Regions from separate parts of the Homo sapiens genome. Here region 2 is linked to region 1. Evidence: fine-mapped expression QTL. Tissue or cell type: testis. Region 1 holds a variant in brackets; the other region holds the start of a gene. All regions are shown on one strand. Distances are between the middles of the regions.

Region 1 (10,884 bases):
AATGAAGGGGAAGCCAAGTTCCCATTAGGAAGGACCCTACTACATTACCAGCAATTTATGCAGTGAATCTTTCTCCCATCCTTCCCCAAGGAGACCTCTGGCCTTTTACCAGGATAACTGTGCGCTGGGGAAAGGGAAATGATCAGACATTTCAGGGACTACTGGACACTGGCTCTGAGCTGACATGGATTCCAGGGGACCCAAAACGTCATTGTGGTCCTCCAGTTAAAGTAGGGGCTTATGGGAGTCAGGTAATTAATGAAGTTTTAGCTCAGGTCTGACTTACAGTGGGTCCAGTGGGTCTCTGGACTCATCCTGTGGTCATTTCCCTAGTGCGAGAATGCATAATTGGCATAGACATACTTAGCAGCTGGCAGAACCTTCACATTGGCTCCCTGACTGGTAGGGTGACGGCTACTGTGGTGAGAAAGGCCAAATGAAAGCCATTAGAGCTGCCTCTACCTAGAAAAATAGTAAATCAAAAACAATATTGTGTCCCTGGAGGGATTGCAGAGATTAGTGCCACCACCAAGGACTTGAAAGACTCAGGGGTGGTGATTCCCACCACATTCCCATTCAACTCTCCCATTTGGCCTGTGCAGAAGACAGATGGATCTTGGAGAATGACAGTGGATTACCATAAGCTTAACCAAGTGATGATTCCAATTGCAGCTGCTGTACCAGATGTGGTTTCATTATTTGAGCAAATTAACACATCTCCTGGTACTTTGTGTGCAACCATTGACTTGGCAAATGCCTTTTTCTCCATTCCTGTCCATAAGGCCCACCAGAAACAATTTGCCTTCAGCTGTCAAGGCCAGCAATATACCTTTACTGTCCTACCTCAGGGGTATATGAATTATCTGGCTTTGTGTCATAATCTTATTCAGAGAGAACTTGATCGCTTTTTGCCTCCAAAAGATATCACACTGGTCCATTACATTGATGACATTATGCAGATTGGATCCAGTGAGCAAGAAGTAGCAAACACTGGACTTATTGGTGAAACATTTGCATGCCAGAGGATGGGAAGTGTATCTGCCTAAAATTCAGGGACCTTCTACCTCAGTAAAATTTCTAAGGGTCCAGTGGTATGGGGCCTGTAGAGATATTCCTCCTAAGGTGAAGGATAAGTTGCTGCATTTGGCCCCTCCTACAACCAAGAAAGAGGCACAATGCCTAGTGGGCCTATTTGGATTTTGGAGGCAACACATTCCTCATTTGGGTGTGTTACTCCAGCCCATTTATTGAGTGACCTGAAAAGCTGTCAGTTTTGAGTGGAGTCCAGAACAAGAGAAGGCTCTGCAGCAGGTCCAGGCTGCTGTGCAAGCTGCTCTGCCACTTGGGCCATATGGCCCAGCATATCCAATGGTGCTTGAGGTGTCAGTGGCAGATAGGCATGCTGTTTGGAGCCTTTGGCAGGCTCCCATAGGTGAATCACAGTGGAGGCCTCTAGGATTTTGGAGCGAGGCCCTGCCATCTTCTGCAGATAACTACTCTCCTTTTGAGAGACAGCTCTTAGCCTGTTACTGGGCTTTGGTGGAAACTGAACGTTTGACTGTAGGTCACCAAGTCACCACGCGACCTGAACTGCCTATCATAAACTGGGTGCTTTCTGACCCATCTAGCCATTAAGTGGGTTGTGCACAGCAGCATTCCGTCATCAAATGGAAGTGGCACTAGGGAAATGACCACAGGATGGAAGTGGTATATATGTGATCAGGTTCCAGCAGGTCCTGAAGGCACAAGTAAGTTACATGAGGAAGTGGTTCAAATGCCCATGGTCTCCACTCCTGCCACCCTTCCTTCTCTCCCCGAGCCTGCCCCAACGGCCTCATGGGAAGTTCCCTATAATTAGTTGGGCCTGGTTCGTGGATGGTTCCGCATGATATGCAGGCACCACCCAAAAGTGGAGAGCTGCAGCACTACAGCCCCTTTCTAGGACATCCCTGAAGGACAGTAGGGAAGGAAAATCTTCCCAGTGGGCAGAACTAAGAGCAGTGAACCTGGTTGTGCACTTTGCATGGAAGGAGAAATGGCCAGATGTGTGATTATATACTGATTCATGGGCTGTAGTTAATGGTTTGGTTGGATGGTCAGGGACTTGAAAGAAGAATGATCGGAAATTGTGACAAAGAAATGTGGGGAAGAGGTATGTGGATGGACCTCTCTGAGTGGTCAAAAACTGTGAAGATATTTGTATCCCATGTGAGTGCTCACCAATGGGTGACCTCAGCAGAGGAGGATTTTAATAATCAAGTGGATAGGATGACCACTTCTGTGGACACCATTCAGCCTCTTTCCCAAGCACCTCTGTCATTGCCCAATGGACCCGTGAACAAAGTGGCCATGGTGGCAGGGATGGAGGTTATGAATGGGCTCAGCAATATGAGCTTCCACTCACCAAGGCTGATCTGGCTATGGCCACTGCTGAGTGCCCAATTTGCCAGCAGCAGAGACCAACACTGATTCCTCGATATGGCACCATTTCTCAGGGTGGTCAGCCAGCTACCTGGTGGCAGGTTGATTATATTGAACCTCTTCCATCATGGAAAGGGCAGAGATTTGTCCTCACTGGAATAGATACTTATTCTGGATATCGGTTTGCCTATCCTGCACACGATACTTCTACCAAGACTACCATCTGTGGACTCATGGAATGCCTTATCCACCATCATGGTGTTCCACACAGTATTGCCTCTGACCAAGGTACTCACTTTACGGCCATAGAAGTGCAGCAGTGGGCTCATGTTCGTGGAATTCACTGGTCTTACCACGTTGCCCATCATCCTGAAGCAGCTGGATTGATAGAACGGTGGAATGGCCTTTCAAAGTCACAATTGCTGTGGGTGGCAAGCCACCCAGGTGCCAAGGCAAGAGACCGAGGACACGAGCTGTTCCAGTATAATAAAATATAAAATAAGAATAGTTATACCAGAGATAGATCTTAGATATGATTATATATGAATATCATTAATCATTAGTAGCAATTACTCTTTATTCCAATATTATAATAATCCTCACTCTATAATCATAAACTAGGAAAAACCAGGCCATACAGAGATAGGAGCTGAAGGGACATAGTGAGAAGTGACCAGAAGACAAGAGTGTGAGCCTTCTGTTATGCCCAGACAGGGCCACCAGAGGGCTCCTTGGTCTAGCGGTAACGCCAGCATCTGGGAAGATGCCCATTGCCAAGCAGACCGTGGTCTAGCAGTAGCGTTAGTGTCAAGGAAAAACACCCGCTACTTAGCAGACCGGGAAAGAGAGTCTCCCTTTCCCCAGGGGAGTTTAGAGAAGACTCTACTCCTCCACCTCTTGTGGAAGGCCTGACATTAGTCAGGCCCACCCACAGTTATTCGGAGGCCTAACCGTCTCCCTGTGATGCTGTGCTTCAGTGGTCACACTCCTAGTCTGCCTTCATGTTCCATCTTGTACACCTGGTTCTGCCGTTTAGTTAGCAGTAGCAAATTAGTGAAAGTACTAAAAGTCTCTGATAAGCAGAAATAATGGTGTAAGCTGTTTCTCTTTCTCCTCTCTCTCTCTGCCTCGGCTGCCAGGCAGGAAAGGGCCCCCTGTCCAGGGGACATGTGATCCATGTGGCCTTCCCTATCATTGGAGATGGCCCACACTCCTTATCCTGCCCCTTTGTCTTGTATCCAATAAATATCAGTGCAGCCTGGCATTCGGGGCCACTACCAGTCTCCGCATCTTGGTGGTAGTGGTCCCCCGGGCCCAGCTGTCTTTTCTTTTATCTCTTTGTCTTGTGTTTTTATTTCTACGCTCTCTCGTCTCCACACAGAAGGAGAAAATGCACCAACCCTGTGGGGCTGGACCCTACAATTACCATGTCAATTAGATGACAATACTTTGCAGGGCTGGGGCAAAGTACTCTAGAAGGCTGTGTATGCACTGGATCAGCATCTGATATATGGTACTGTTTCTCCCATAGCCAGGATTCACGGGTCCAGGAATCAAGGGGTGGAAGTGGAAGTGGCACCACTCACCATCACCCCTAATGATCCAGTAGCAAAATTTTTGCTTCCTGTTCCTGCAACATTACGTTCTGCTAGCCTAGAGATCTTAGTTCCAGAGGGAGTAACACTGCCACCAGGAGACACAACAACAATTCCATTAAACTGAAAGTTAAGATTGTCACCTGGACACTTCGGGCTCCTCCTACCTTTAAGTAAACAGGCTAAGAAGGGAGTTACAGTGTTGGCTAGGTTGATTGACCCAGACTATCAAGATGAAATCAGTCTACTACTCCATAACAGAGGTAAGGAGGAGCATGCATGGAATACAGGAGATCCATTAGGATGTCACTTAGTATTACCATGCCCTGTGATTAAGGTCAATGAGAAACTACAACAGCCCAATCCAGGGAGGACTACAAATGGTCCAGACCCTTCAGGAATGAAGGTTTAAGTCACTCCACCAGGAAAAAAACCTTGATCTGATGAGGTGCTTGCAGAAGGCAAAGGGAATACACAGTGGGTGATAGAAGAAGGTAGTCATCAATACCAGCTACGACCACATGACCAGCTGCAGAAATAAGGACTGTAAAAAGTATTAACCCTAGGTGAGTCTGTGTGGGTGTTGCCAAAGGAGATTTGAGTCAGTGGGCTGGGGAAGGCAGACCCACCCTTAATCAGGTGGACACCATCTAATGAGCTTCCAGCAAATATAAAGCAGGCAGAAAAACATGAAAAGGCAAGACTGGCTTAGCCTTCCAGCCTACATTTTTCTCCCATGCTGGATGCTTCCTGCCCTCAAACATCAGACTCCAAGTTCTTCAGTTTTGGGACTTGGACTGGCTCTCCTTGGTCCTCAGCTTGCAGACAGCCTATTGTGGGGACCTCGTGATCATGTTAGTTAATATTTAATAAACTCCCATTTACATATATACATATATATATACATATATAATATTTATCCTATTAGTTCTGTCCCTCTAGAGAACCCTGACTAATACAGATTTTGGTACCAGGAGTGGGCTGTTGTGTTGCTGAAAAGATACCCAAAAATGTGGAATTGACTTTGGAATTGGGTAACAGGCAGAGGTTGGAACAATTTGGAGGGCTCAGAAGAAGATAAGAAAATGTGGGAAAGTTTGGAACTTCCTAGAGACTTTGCCCAAAATGCTGATAGCAATATGGACAATAAAGTCCAGGCTGAGGTGATCTCAAATGGAAATTAGGAACTTGTTGGGAAGTGGAGCAAAGGTGACTCTTGTTATGTTTAACAAAGGGACTGGCAGCATTTTTCCCCTGCCCTACAGACCTGTGGAACTTTGAACCAGAGAGAGATGATTTAGGGTATCAGGTGGAAGAAATTTCTAAGCAGCAA[A/G]CATTCAAGAGGTGATTCAGGTGCTGTTAAAGGCATCCCATTTTATAAGGAAAGCACAGCATAGAAGTTTGGAAAATTTGCAGCCTGACAATGCAATAGAAAAAGAAAATCCCATTTTCTGGGGAGAAATTTAAGCCAGCTGCAGAAATTTGCATAAGTAACGAGGAGCAGAATGTTAACTCACAAGACAATGGGGAAAAGACATGCCTCTCCAGGGCATGTCAGAGGTCTTCACAGCAGCCCTTCTCATCACAGGCCTGGAGGTGTACAAGATAAAAATGGCTTCCTGGGCTAGGCCCAGGGTCCCCATGCTGTGTACAGCCAAGGGACTTGGTGTCCTGTGTCCCAGCTGCCCCTAGCCATGACTAAAAGGGACCAAGGTAAAGCTCCAGCCATGGCTTCAGAGGGTGCAAGCCCTAAGCCTTAGCACCTTCCACATGGTGTTGAGCCTGTGGGTACACAGAAGTCAAGAATTGAGGTTTGGGCACCTCCGCCTAGATTTCAGAAGATGTATGGAAATGCCTGGATGCCCAGGCAAAAGTTTGTTGCAAGCGCAAGGCCTTCATAGAGAACCTCTGCCACAGCAGTGCAGAAGGGAAATGTGGGGTCAGAGCCCCCAAACAGAATCCCTAATGGGGTAACCACCTATTGGAGCTGTGAGAAGAGGGCCACCATCCTCCAGACCCCAGGATGATAGATCCACTGATAGCTTGCACTGTGTGCCTGGAAAAGCCACAGACACTCAACACCAGCCCATAAAAACAGCCGGGAGGGAGGCTGTATCCTGCAAAGCCAAGGGGCGGAGCTGCCCAAGACCATGGGAACCCACTTCTTGCATCAGTGTGACCTGGATGCGAGATGTGGAGTCAAAGGAAATAATTTTGGAACTTTAAGATTTAACTGCCCTGATGGATTTTGGACTTGCATGGGGCCTGTAGCCCCTTTGTTTTGGCCAATTCCTCCCATTTGGAATGGCTGTTTTTGCCCAATGCCTGTACCCACATTGTATCTAGGAAGTAACTAACTTGCTTTTGATTTTACAGGGTTGTAAGCAGAAGGGAGTTTTCTTGTCTCAGATGAGACATTGGACTGTGGACTTTTGAGTTAATGCTGAAATGAGTTAAGGCTTTGGGGGACTGTTGGGAAGGCATGATTGATTATGAAATGTGAGAACATGAGATTTGGGAGGGGCCAGGAGTGGAATGATATGGTTTGCCTGTGCCCCCACCCAAATCTCAACTTGAATTATATCTCCCAGAATTCCCATGTTTTGTGGGAGGGACCCAGTGGGAGGTAATTGAATCATAGGGGCTGGTCTTTCCTGTGCTATTCTCATGGTAGTGAAAAAGTCTCACAAGATCTGATGGGTTTATCACGGGTTTCTGCTTTTGCTCCCTCCTCATTCTCTCTTGCCACTGCCATGTAAGAAGTGCCTTTCGCCCTCCACCATGATTCTGAGACCTTCCCCAGCCACGTGGAACTGTAAGTCCAGTTAAACCTCTTTCTTTTGTAAATTGCCTAGTCTCAGGTATGTCTTTATCAGCAGCATGAAAATGGACTAATACACTTCCCCTCTTTGTCTTGCTCACTCACTCACTCACTTCCCCTCTTGCCTTGCCATGTGATCCCTGCACGCCAGCTCCACTTCACCCTCCACCATGCATGAAAACAGCCTGTGCCATCATCGGATGCAAATGCTGGCACCATGATTCCTGTACAGCCTGCAGAACCATGAGCCAAATAAACCTCTTTTCTTTACAAATTACCCAGCCCCAGCTATTCCTTTATAGCAACACTAAATGGACTAAGACAATTGAGATAGAAACTTTAAGCACCAGCCAGCAGATAGGGGTTTTAAGAGTTTTGTTTCCCATTGAACCTACCAAATGCCCTGAAAACAATGTCAAGTATTGCCTCATTACATCTGCCTCTGCTGCAAGTTGTGATGTCATAATAGAATCATCCAGAAATCCTTTCATTGTTTTTCTTATGGAAGACTTGTGGACCCAAGGTGGCATTTAATCATAACTCTCTTGTCTAACTTGGAAACAAGAATTTACTCTCCTTCTCTTTTTTGTTCTTTCTTTCTAAAAAAAAAAAAAAGTGGGGGGCAGTAAGCATGATGTCTGAAGAAATAAATACGCCCTGGAGATTTGGAGGTATTATGTATTACCTCCCACATTCTAGATGCCCACTCTTTCCCTGGGAAGAAACACAGAGACCCTGATAAGCCCCTGATTTAAGAATAACAGACTAATCTCCAAGAAGGAAAAACTGAAATGAGGTTTGTCAGGGCGTTTTGTGCCCTCACAGGGTGAGGATATGTAGTAATGTAGTTTCTTGGAAACTAATCTTTATGAGAAATATTTTCCTGAACTTCTTTAGCTTCATCAGTTTCCTTTCTTTTTATTAGTAAATATAGCTAAAACTTGCTTTTAAAACATATATGATATTCTCATAAAATTTTATCTTTCAACCTAATCTAAGCAGTTCTCTAGCTATACAAATTTAACTTTCTTTCTGTATATGCAGAGAGACATGGAATCATGATTGGAGCGATGTCCACCAGATGTCAAAATAGAGTTCTGGATTCTTGTTTTGTATCAACTTTAATGAGATATAATTTCCATATAATAAAATGTACATATTTGTGTATAATTTGATAAGTTCTCAAAAGCTTATACACCCATGTAAACACCTCCACATCATGATACAGAACGTTTCAATTACCCTAACAAGCTCTTCTCTGCCCTTTTGATACAAATCCTTCATCTCAGCCCCAAGCAATCACTATTCTCTCACTTTACATTAGTTCTCTTATTGTGCAGTTTTATATAAATGGAATTATACAATATGAACTTATTTTGTATCTATCTTCTTTTGCTAATCTAAACACTTTTCAGATTCATCCATGTTGGTGCATGGATGAATGCATGCTAAGTCCTATTCCATTATATAGATGTATCACATTCATATAATTATACTCCATTATATAGATTGCTAAATCCTATTCCATTATATAGATATATCACAATTGTTTTGTCCATCATCTATTGATGGATATTTGTCTTAATTTTAGCTTTAGATTAATTTGGATAAAGTTGGGGTAAGCATAAATACATAGGCCTTTGTGTTGATATATGTTTTTCAAGCTCTTATATAAATCCCTAGGAGTATACGTTCAACTTTCTAAAAAAAGCCATTTTTTCCCCAAAGTAGTTTTGCCATTTTACATTTCCACCAGAAATTTACGGTTGTTGCAGTTGTTCTACATTGTTTCCAACACTTGAAATTGTCAGTTTCTTTAATGTTAGTGGGTCTCTAATGGTATCCCATTTTGCTTATAATTTCTAGTTCCTTGATGACTAATGACGTTGAACATCTTTTCACATGCTGATTGGCTATGCATATAAGTTCTTTTATGTAGGGTCTGTTTGTATCAGTTAACCATTTTAAAAAACAATTAGGTTGATTGTCTCCCTATTATTGAATTTTTAGAATTATTTATATAATATGGAAATACAACTTTTGTCTAATATATATGTTATGAATATTTTCTCCAGGTTTGTGGTTTGCCTTTTCATTTTCTTATCTATGTCTTTCAAAAAGCAGAGGTTTCTAATTTTTATAAAGCCTACTTTGTAAATTATTTTCTTTGGTGGTTTGTGCTTTTTGTGTGTGTACTACCTACAAAATTTTTGTATACCCAAAAGTTGCATATTTTTTCTAGTAGCTTTTAGTTTAGCTTTACTGTTTTGGTATATGATCTGTTTAATGTTCATATATGGTTTGAGGGAGGGATTATGGTTCATTCTTTTCTATATACATAACCAGTTATTTCTTTTCTATATATAAGTAACCAGTTGTTTCAACACCATTTTTGAAAAGATTATCTTTTGGCTGGGCATGGAGGCTCATGCCTGTAAACCCAGCACTTTGGGAGGCCGAGGTGGGCAGATCACGTGAGGTCAGGAGTTCAAGACCAGCATGGCCAACATGTGAAACCCTGTCTCTACTAAAAATACAAAAATTAGCTGGGCATGGTGATACATACCTGTAATCCTAGCTACTCTGGAGGCTGAGGCATAAGAATTGCTTGAACCTGGGAGACAGAGGTTGCCGTGAGCCGAGATCACACCACTGTACTTCAGCCTAGGTGACAGAGCAAGACTCCATTAAAAAAAAAAAAAAAGACTATCTTTTCCCTGATTAGATTAAACTGTATTGATCCTTCGTTAAAGATCAATTGACCATTTAGGTATAGGTTTATTCATTTCTGAATATTTATCCTTACATATTTATCCTTATATCAATAGCAGACTGTCTTTAAATAATAGCTTTAAAGTAAATGTTCAAATCAAGTCATTTTATTTCCCTAATTATGTTCTTTCTTGTTCTTCAAAATTGTGTAAAATACTATATGACATTTGAATAACCATATAAAATTTAAAATCAAATGTCAATTTCTAGGTACTAGTTCAATTTTGGAAGAACTGAAATATTATCAATATTGACTCTGCAATCATAGCGTGTATCTCCACTTATTTTTATCTCCCTTGAGTTTTAGCAACAATGCTGTGATCATAGTACTTAAGTCTTAAACACATTTTGCTAAATTTATCCTTATTTCATGCCTTTGATGCAATTGCAAATGGTGTTTATTTGATTGCAATTTCCAATCCTTGTTATTAGTACATAAAACACTATTTATTTTTGTATGTTTTACTTTATATGACCTTGATAAACTCACTTATTAATTCAAGTAGCACTTTTAACATACATGTGATTATGTTACATTACATGGCATAGTTAACCTTAAGACAGTGAGATTTTCCTGGTAAGCCTGACCTAAGCACACAAGCTCTTCAAAAAAGAGAGGTTTTTTTTCTAGTTTCAAAAGGCAATGTAGAATAGAAGCAAACTGGTTTCACTCTCTCCCACAGAAAACCAAAAACAAAGATTATCACCAGAAATATCCCAGAACTCAAATAAAAAGATGAGACCACTTCCAGGCCCACAGAGAAGTGAAAACACTCTGAGTAGTTGGTAAGAGAACTAGACACCCACATTTGCAATGCCCCCTCCCCCATTCTGCCTGGCACCACATGTGTTGAAAAATTTCCCCAACTCATTGTTTCTACACTGAGAAAAGCAAAATGGAGGAGACAAACAGCTTCCCCACCATTTTGGGTTCCCTGGCAGGAGAACCGTCCCTACCTTAGCCCATGGGAAGCATCAAGAAGTATCCCTGAAGACAGGCAGAGACAAAGTGGGGAGGTGGGACTACCACCTCCAGCCCTGGAAACTCTGCTCTGAAACTCAGCCACAGAAGATGCAAATTACAGTGGATGTTCAGCAGCACCATGCTGTAGGAGTTTCATCCCACAGGTCCCCTGGGTACAAACCCCTAGCCAGCCTTCCCACACTACTGGGATATCCCTTTGGGACTTCCCCACCTCTAACTCGAGAAGAGCAGTGCTCTAACCATTTACTAGAGCCAAGGGGAGCTTGTTTTTAAGGTACCACCTAGAGCCA
Region 2 (9,862 bases), 70 kb before region 1:
CCTATGATGACCCCCGCTCCCACCTCCACGTCCCATGGCCACGGCCCCTCCCTTCCAAGCTCCTTCTGCCTGATGGGCAGCACCCCCTCCCGTCTGGAGTCTGCCGGGGCCCTTCCTGCTCTCCTTGTTAATTTATTTTCTGTCTTGGAGGGAAGCTGGGTGCACCTGCTCAGGTGGCCCCCTAGGGCCAGAAGACCTGTCAGTCACTTTCAAATACATGTTCTTTCCAGCTCTTCCTTGCCAAAGGTTCTAAAAACACTGTTGTCCGTCTCACCCAAAAAGCTAAGCTTCTGTCCAATCCTTAACGGTAGCTATAAATGAGAAGCATAAGCTTGGTTTCCTTCTAACATCCGGCAAGTTAGAAGATAAAACGTATTTCTTCACTTATTCATCACATATTTGCAGGGCACCCCTACACGGGACAGCAGAGGTCCCAGGCCGGTGCTGCACCCGGAGCCAGGCTCGGAGCTGGCCGCGCGCCCTCAGCTGAAACTCACCGGAGGCGCGGCCGCCCTGGGCTGAGAAGACGCCGTCGGCCCAGGTGGCATCAGAACCCACAGGAGGAAGACAGCCAGCCCAGAAGGAGCCATGGGGGGCCTCTGGGGATCGCAAGGGTCGACCCCATCCTCCCTGAAACAAGGCCGGAGGTTGAGGAGGTCTCCGCCCGGCCCCGCAGCTGACAACCGGTGGAGAAACCGCACCTGCCACGGGAGGGGCCGCGGGGTGGGCTCGAGCCACCATGGGGCTGGTACAAGCACCCTCTCCGCTCAGGACCTCGGCCCTCATCCCAGGGCACCAGGGCTCACAGGGGGATGGGCCCGGGTGGGGACGAGGGTGTGGAGGGGCAGGAAGCACGGCGGGTGGAGCGGAGCCGGGTGCGGGGGTCGCGGGGGACCGCGGGGACGGGGCCTTGTGATGCAGGAGACGGAGGGGGCTGGTGACGGAGGACGGGAGGCCGCAAGGATGGGGGACGCGACATCCTTTTCCCCTCCCACCGGCTCACCAGGGATGCGCCTCCGCGACTGCCCGCCCCAATCCCAGGGCGGAGGCCTCGCGCAAAACCCAGGCGCCGCGGCTCCGCGCTCCGGCTGAGGGTCCGCGCCGCCGCCCGCCCGCTCCTTCCCGCTCGGCCGCGGCCTCAGGGACGGATACTCCAGCGCGCGGTTCCAACCGAGGCCCGTGGCGGGTAAGGCCGGGAGGCTGGGGCGGGTACGGGGCCGGGAGCGAGGGGCGGCGCGGGGAGGGGATGCAGCTGTCGCCCGCACAGCCGTGTCTGGACGCGGCCCCGCAACTCGACCCCGTCCCGCCCCCAGCCAGCTGCTGAACTAGGCGGCCGGGGACGGCATTGAGCGCTGGGCGCGCGCGGGAGGGACTGTCCCTGGGGCACGGGTCTGCTGGGGCGGAGTCCGCACGGTGTCAGCAGCCGCTTGTCCTCCGCAGCATCCGCAAGGCCCGCACCCAGGCTTTGGCCCCAAAGGTGGGGACCAGGCCCAGGCACGGCCCGTCCCCGTTCCAGACCCTGATCTGAGCCAGCTCTTGGTCCCGGCTACCGCGTCCTCCAAACACAACGCCCCTCCCCCCATGCCGCCTCCCCCCGCCCCCCACATCCCAGCAACGCGTGCAGAGCTCCCTCCCCCAGGCTTGCTCCCCCGCCCGGGCCTGGACGCCCCCAGAGGCCTGAACGCTCCTGCCCCGCTTCTACACCCCCAATCCAGGTGCACAACCTTCAGGTGCAGAACCCTCCTGCCCCTCCTGCCCCACCTGCCACTTCCCAGCGCCTCCCCCAGGCCTAAGTCCCTGATGCTAGAGGTTAAACCGCGCCCCCCCAGGCCTCAGTGGGCCTCCAAGATGCTGGGGGCACCCTGATCCCACAAAAGATGGGGGTCCCTCTGCTCTCCAGCCTTGAGCCCTCCGCCTCTGGGCACCCGATCTCCATGGAAACTAAGGGCCCTTTCCCTCTCTTCCCGCAGGTTTAGCCCCATGAAGATGAACTGGGCACCCGCGAATGGCTGGGCTCTGCTACAGGAGGCAGCCTTCCTCTGCGTGCGGCCGCGGAGGGCTCCGCGGGGGCTCGAGAGGGGCCTCGAGGGTGTGTGTGAGGCCGGCGCTGTGCTATGGTGCCCCGGGCTCCTCCCTGCGCGTGGCTGCGGCCGGGGCGGCGGGCTCAGGCTGGAGAAGGGCCGCGGGACCCGGGGAACGCGGCCTGGAGGACGAGGAGGACTGGGTTCCCGGAGGCAACAGGACCGGCTCGGCATCTACAGCTACTGTACGTGGACTTCGGGCGCTGGACCCACGGGCGGCCTGTGCCTCTGTGTCGGGCTGGGTGGCGCCCTCAGTGCCCTGGGGCTGCTGCGGCCCTAGGCCTGGCTGGGCTCGGTGACCACATCTGGCCCCCGGGCCGCACCGTCCCCCAGGATCCTCCGGCCTGGGCTCCCCCTTCCTCCCTTGCCCACAGTCTTGGAGCCCCAGTGGGTGCAGGAGCTGCTGGCTGCCCCTGTGGACCCGCCATCCACCGTCCTGCCCATGCTGCCTCGCCATCCACCTGCCTGCCCACGCCGCCTCAGCCTCCCACCTCCCACCTAGAGGAGACCATGGGCCCTGCCCCACCTGCTCCAGGATGTTAGGGTCCCCTCAGCCAAAAAGGCAGTGGCCTGTGGCTCCTGTACCAACAGCCCAGCCACACTCCAGAGCCGCCCAAAGGGAGGTGCCAAGGCCAGGAACCCAAGCCACCCCAGCTCCCCATGCCTGCCCAGGGGCCGTGGTAACCCATGGACAGGGAGGTGACCTCAGGCTGGTTCTGCCACTGAGGCCCTGAGGAATCAGGCCCTCCCCAAAAGAAGTAATGAAATGGACCAAAGGACTTAAGAATTTGGGGGGAAGTAAGGGGAAAACGTTAGGTGCTAACCACCTGCCCAGAAGAGTGGATCTCACAGCCCAGGAACATTCCCAAGCAGGAAAACCATCCGTCCAGGAACCCTAACCCTAAAACTAAGCACAACCCCTACCCCTAACCCCTGACCCTAACGCTGACCCTTAACCATAACCCTTAACCCTAACCACTAACGCAAAACACTAACCCTTAACCCTAACCCCTAACACCTAACCCCCACCTCAAGCACTAAACCCTAAGCCTAAACCTTAACCCTAACTGCTAACACTAACCCATAACCCTAAGCCCTAGCCCCAACCCTAAACTTGACCCTGAACCCAAGCCTCCAACCCAACCCCGACACAAACCCCTAACCCTAACCCCTAATTCTAGCCCTAATCCCTAAATCCAACACCAACCCTTGACCGGACCCCTGACCCCTAACCCTAACCTCAACTCATAACCTCAACCCCTACTCCTACACCTAACCCCTACCCTAATGCTAGCCATAAACCTAACACCCAAACCCAAACTCGAACCTATGCCTACCCCTAAAACCCTAGCCCGAACCGTAACCACAAATCCTAACACACAACGCTACCCCTAAACCTACCACTACCCCACCCCAAACCCTGACACCGAACCCTGAAGCTAACCCTAACAACACTAAGCCTAACCTGCAACCCTTAACCCAACTGTAACTCCTAATGCTAACCCTAACCCTAACCCTAACAACACTAAGCCTAACCCCTAACCCTTAACCCAACTGTAACTCCTAATGCTAACCCTAACCCTTAACTCTAACCCCTTACCCTAAACTGTAACCCCTAACCCTAATCCCAACCCCAACACGTAACCCTAACCCCTATCCCCTACCCTAAAACCCTAACCCTTACAAACCTTAGCCAAATCCCAAACCCTAACCCCCACCCCTGACCCTAATCCCCTAGCCCCCAAACCCTAACCCCAATACCCTAACCCCAACACTAAAACCCTGACCCTAACCGTAAAACCCTACCCCTACCCCGACCCTAGCCCAACCCTAACCCTACCCCAATCCTTCCCCTACCCCTAACACTAACCCCAAACCCTAATTCTAACCCCACTCCTAACCCCAAAACTAACTTCTAACCCCTAAACCCTAACCCCAACCCCAACTCTAACCTTAATCCCTAGCTCTAATCTGTAGCCCTAACCCTAAACCCTAAGGTAACCTTTTATAGGTTAGGATTCGAGGCTTCGTATTTAGGACAGGCAGGTGTTCTGATGTCTCCCACTCACCTGCACGGTAAAGTTCTTCCCCTGGCTCTTCACAACCAGTCGCGATGCATCGCGGCCTCCCCTGGCCGGTGAAGGGCTGGGTTCTCCCGAAAGCCTCTGCTCCTCCTCCCTCCTCCCAGGGCCCTCCGGGCCTCCACGGTGGCCCCAGCGCGGCAGGGACCGTGCAGAAGGGACCGTGGGCTTGTGGCCGGCCTCGGCCACTGTGGGCATGGAGCTCACGGGAACGCGGCCTAGGGGCAGGCTACGCTCCTCTGCGCGCGCAGGAACAGCGGGCCCAGCGGGGGCTGCCGCAGATTTCACTCGCTGGGGCCCGTGCACTCCCGCGGCGGTGTGGTCCCGCAGAGCCGCAACCTCATGAGGCTGCCAGGGCCACAGCGCCTTGTGGAGTCGTCATCCGTCAGACACGCACACTTCACAGGAAGCTTCGGCGCTACACATGCGTACTGCTCGTTGGTGGGGAGGGCCTCCAGAACCAGGGCCGGTCCCCTCGGAAGCCAGCGCACATGCGCGGGGGCACCCGGCAGCGGGCCAATCGCAAGCCTGGACGGCCGCACGTGGCCCTGGCGGGCTTCCCGCCGCGTTTGTAGCCCTCGCGCCTTTACGCATGCGCACTAGTGCCACGCAGGCCTGCCGGAGAATTACCTCACATCTCCAGGCGCGCGCAGGAGTGCATTGCGCAGGCGCGCTGCCTGGAGTCCTGCCCCCAGCGGCGGTTGCTCCAATCACCACTGGAGGCTCCCTCCCGAGGCACCCTCGCTGGCGAGCTGAGAGGAAATGGCGGGGAGGTCCCTGACATCGAAGGCCGAGCCCACCGCAGGAGCCGTGGACAGGGCTGAGAAGGCCGGAGGTAGTGGTGGGAGGCAGGGAACTGTGCGTGAGGGTCTGACCTCGCCGAGGCGGGGCAGGGTTGGGGCGCGGGTGGCGGCTGCTTCTTCCTGTCAGTCCTGATGCTGCTGATTGAGACTTAGCGGGTTTCTTCAGAAAAATTTCGGCCAAGATGAGGGAGTGCTTGCCCGCACACCCCCCACTTTGTCTTAAAGCATTGAACTGTTATCATAGTTGCTCCAATTTTGGTTTAGGTAATTAGTCAAAAGACATCCCTTCCCGTTGTCCCACAGACTTTACATACACACCTCTTAAAACAAAAAGGATATTTTCCTGACGCTCCCAATCCCAAGGGAATTCCTAATTCCACCTTCCTCTCCCTAGAACCAGCAAGTGTCCAGATTTCCCAGTCGCACTAAACTGGTTCTTGACAGTGGGGCCCCCCACCCAGCATCCCGACGCCCCGGGGAGCCGGGGGAGGCCGACTCCACGCAGATCCCCCGTTTGTTTCTCCCTGACCCCGACCTGCCATAGTGGCTCCTACCTCACCCTGGGAAGGGAGGGGACAGGCAGCTGGTCAGAGTTGTACAGAAGTCCAGAAATTGCAGCCCAACAAAGAGAAAGGACACTGTCCTGGCCGTTTCCACTTCAGGACACTGTGTGCCTCTGGGTGTTCTGTGAGGATTTTCAAACTTACAGAAAAGTGGAGAGAATTGTACGGTGACGTCCCTCCTGCTGTCACTCAGCTTGTCATTCTGTCCTGAGATCATCTGTCCCCCTTGAGTTAAAACTCTGCAATTAACAAACGTCGGTGGCTGCCTCCAGCCCTACCTGCGTGAATGCCATGGCAGGTGCTCTGTCATGTTCTTACAAAATGAAGGTTTGAATACTGAAACAAGCTTAGCACAGAAAGCATCCCTACAGTGAGATGTGGCACAGTGAAAGCCCCAGCGAAGGACAAAGCAAGTAAACAGGACAGACGCAAACGTATCCCTTTCATTAAGCACCTGCTGGCCCGCCGGTGTGCTAGCCTTTCAGTATCATGGCTCCATGTTCCTCACATAACCTAGTATATTTAGGTAAGTTTTAACCAATGTCGCTTGTGCCTTAGTTCAAACTGCTACAACAGAAATGCCTTATTTCTCACAGTTTTCGAGGCTAGAAGTTCAAGATCAAGGTGCAATTCAGCGTCTGGTGGGGGCCTGCTTCCTGGCTATAGACTTCTGTCTTCTCATTGTGTCCTCATGTTGGGGAAGTTGCTGCAGACCTCTCTGGTCTTATAAGGGCACTAATCCCATTGCTGAGGGCCCTACTCTCATGACCTAATCACCTCCCAAAGGCCCCACCTCCTAATGCAGTCACACTAGGGGGTTAGGATTTCAACATACGAACTATGGATGGGGGCACAAACATTCTATAGTGACCAGCTACAGAAGAAATTTAAAGGACAAGATTCCAGTTTTAGTCTATCTGTTTTAAAAAGGAAGCAGGGATGTTATCTAGGGTCAGTGACACTAGATACATTTTAGTAAAAAGTCTATTAGTCTTCACCTAACTGGCTGCAGTTATTACTAGAAAGGGGAATGACTGGGGAAAGGGAATGTTGGTGTTTCAATTTTTTCTTCATACTTTTTCACACATGCCAATTACTTGAATAATTTAAAACTTAATGCAAAAATTTATGAGCAGTAATTTGTGTAAGATTTCAGGTGGGACCAAAATGAGGGGACTCCATAAACTCAAAAATAAGCATTTCACAAAATTTTATGCTTGATTTTTTTTTTTTTTTGAGACGAGATTGTGCTTTGTTGCCCAGGCTGGAGTGCAGTGGTACAATCACTGCTCACTGCAGCCTTGACCTCCTGGCCTCAAGAGATTCTCCCACCTCAGCCTCTTGAGTAGCTGGAATCACAGGTACATGTCACCATGCCCAGATAATTTTTTTAAATTTTTTATTTGTAGAGAGAGGGTCTTGCTGCATTGCTCAGGCTGCTCTTGAACTCCTATGCTTGAGCAGTCCTCCTGCCTCAGTCTCCCAAAAGTGCTGGGATTATGGATGTGAACCACTGAGCCTGGCCTTATGCATGTATGCATGATTTTTAATGGCTGTAAATGATTTCATCCTGTGTATGTGCTATAATTTATTTAACAAATCCCCTAAGGCATATTTAGGCTTCTTCGAGTTTTTCACTATTATAAACAATACAGTGATGAACACCTTGCCCATTAGCCATATCCAGAATTACTTAGGACATAGTCTTAGAAAATAAGATGCACCCAAACTTTTGATATTTACTATCAGAAAGTTTGTAAGGAGACACCTTAATTTTGCATATCTGGTTGACAAAGATAAACACGTTTGGAAACATAGGTGATTGGTAAAAATGAAAAACTGGGCATCTTGTATACATCAGTGTAAGGTAATTTGGTATTGTCAATCAAAACTGTTACAAACTTTGGTCAGGTGCCTCTGAGCCTTCTCAACCGTGCCTCGGCCTTGGCCTTGGCCTGTGATATGGTTTGGATCTGTGTCCTCACCCAAATATGTTGAATTGTAATCCCCAATGTTGGAGTTGGGGCCTGGTGGGAGGTGGTTGGATCACAGGAGACCAATTTTATTTAGATAGTGACTACCTATCTTTTAACTGGATCTCTGAGCTCTGGGAAGAGGCCACACTGAATCCTGGGTCTGCAAAAAGGGAGAATTATTATGAGGCTCGACCACATGGATGCTTTTACAGTGTACTTAAAAAACATTAAAAAAATATTTCTAAGTGTCTAAAATATACTCTTCCTTAAAAATGCAGGAGTAGCTTCTGTTGCAATAATTAATAAACAAAAAAATCAGGTAACACAATACAAAAGCAAACAGTTTAGGAGCTGACATGAACTTGTGTGTTTACACTCTTGGGGATACACAAGGAAAAACAATTTTCTCCACAAAAGGGAGTCTGGTGCCTTCTCCATTTTCTTTAAGGAACCTCAGGCTATTATAAACTATTTTAGGTCCCTCATGCAGCAGAGCGTTCAAGGGAAAGGAGAGACAGCAGAACTATATGAAGAAAATAGCATTCAGTCAACTGAAAAGAAAAAAAACTTTTGCCCAAAAAACACAAGGTCCTAGGAGAGAGAAAAAAGAAAAATCATGAAGCCCTTTTAAATACACACACACACACACACACACACACACACACACACACACACACACACACACACATTGGATGTTAGCTTTTAATTAAGATGACTTTTAACCATTTGAGTTTCTTTTTAAAAAATTTTTAAGATCTCATCAACATATTTCAGCTAGGACAAATATCTGCTATTTCAGAAGTACCAAGTATCAAACCAGAAAGGTCTTGATTTAGGAACCAAACCCAGGCTGTCATGGAAAAAAGAAGACAGAACCTTAGCTATGGAACTGCAGTTGGGGTGACAATCCTTTCTCTTTCAGTTTGGCCTGGCTAGCAAAAAGGTGGCCTTGTTATGTAAATAAATCCCCTTAAGTAGTCAAAATCAAAAATCTTCCCCCCCTTTTTTCCTTTTGCTGGCTGTTTTTTCTTCCCCCACCACCCCTTTTCTGGTGGGAATTTAGCCACTTCAGAGGCCTTGTTCCACATAATTTGGAACTTTCCTTTGGATTTGATCAAGTCAGAATTGGCCAAACCCAATAGGAAAAGGACCAAAACAACAAAAACAGAAAGAAACAACAACAAAAAAAAATACCAGTTAAGCAAAACAAACAAATGATCACACAACTTGTATGGTTACTGGACACTCTAATGATAAGGAAAAATTAAGACCAGCTGGTTGTTAATTTTACCTTTAGCCAAGACAAACCCCAATTCAGTTACTTACCTAGGGATGGGTCTTAGGCTGAAGACTGCTCTCTATCATCTTAGAAGCAGGAAAAAAACCCTCAAACTTGTCTTCCCTGTTGGGAGCGAGTTCAAACTCCAGAAAGGAACTTTCATGGAAGCAGGAAAACTTGCCTTCCTTGTTGGAAGCAAGAAAAACTCCAAAAAAAGAGTAGAGTTGTTTAGAAAAATAAACTTTGGATCTGGAGCGAATTTTGGGAAATGAGGGATTCCCTGGATGGGGGACTTCCAGAACTCAGCAACTTGTCATATTAGTTTGAACCATAAAGATAGCTCAAGCTGCTAGCAAGCACTGATAGGATATTTGTCAAAGGTCAGGGGCACCTCTACTCAGAATCCCTTTGTGGTTGCCAAAATGTGAAACCCAAAAATCTGAGACAGGTCTCAGTCAATTTAGGAAGTTTATTTTACCAAAGTTAGGGATGCATGCCTGTGACACGGCCTCAGGAGGTCCTGATGACCTGTGCCCAGGGTGGCAGGGTGGTCAGAGCACAGGTTGGTTTTATGCTTTTTAGGGAGACATGAGACACAAATCAACATATGTAAGATGAACATTGGTTCGATCTGGAAAGGTGGGACAACTCAAAGCAATGATGAGACAACTTGAAGCAGGGGGGTTTGCTTCAAGGTCATAAGTAGATAAAAGACAAATGGTTGTATTCTTTTGAGTTTCCGATTAGCCTTTCCAAAGGAGGCAATCAGATATGCATTTATCTGAGTAAGAAGAAGGATGACTGAATTATTTTCAGATATTTATTTTACAAAATCAGATATGCATTTATCTCAGTGAGCAGAGGGATGACTTTGAATTGATTTATTTTCAAAGATTTATTTATAAAAAGATTTATTTTCCTTTCACAATGTTAATGCCATAAATAGTAATTTCTTAGATCTACTAATTTTAGTGTTAAAAATAGGTTCCAATAGTGATTATAAAAAATTAACATGAAATATTTTATGGGGAAATTTCAGGGTTAGTATTGGTTGTATGTAGGAAAGCTTGTTTGTATTT

Evidence for each region. PIP is the estimated chance that this variant, and not a neighbour inherited with it, causes the effect.
Region 2: it holds the start of SYCE1, and the variant in region 1 is fine-mapped to the expression of SYCE1 in testis (GTEx, PIP above 0.99).

What each region holds. Positions count from the first base shown.
Region 1 is chr10:133,489,839-133,500,722 of GRCh38, reverse strand. LOC105378575 (a long non-coding RNA gene) reads left to right here. Exons shown (of 5, transcript XR_946512.3): 5 at 7,882-9,299. Among named protein-coding and RNA genes, the nearest start is that of CYP2E1, 32 kb to the left of the region's middle. RefSeq lists a silencer at 3,121-3,200 and an enhancer at 10,226-10,275. The variant A/G (reference allele first, on the strand shown) is at 5,350.
Region 2 is chr10:133,560,592-133,570,453 of GRCh38, reverse strand. It overlaps SYCE1 (synaptonemal complex central element protein 1), which reads left to right and starts at 4,871. Exons shown (of 13, transcript NM_001143764.3): 1 at 4,871-4,997. The coding sequence starts at 4,925. It also overlaps the pseudogene SPRNP1.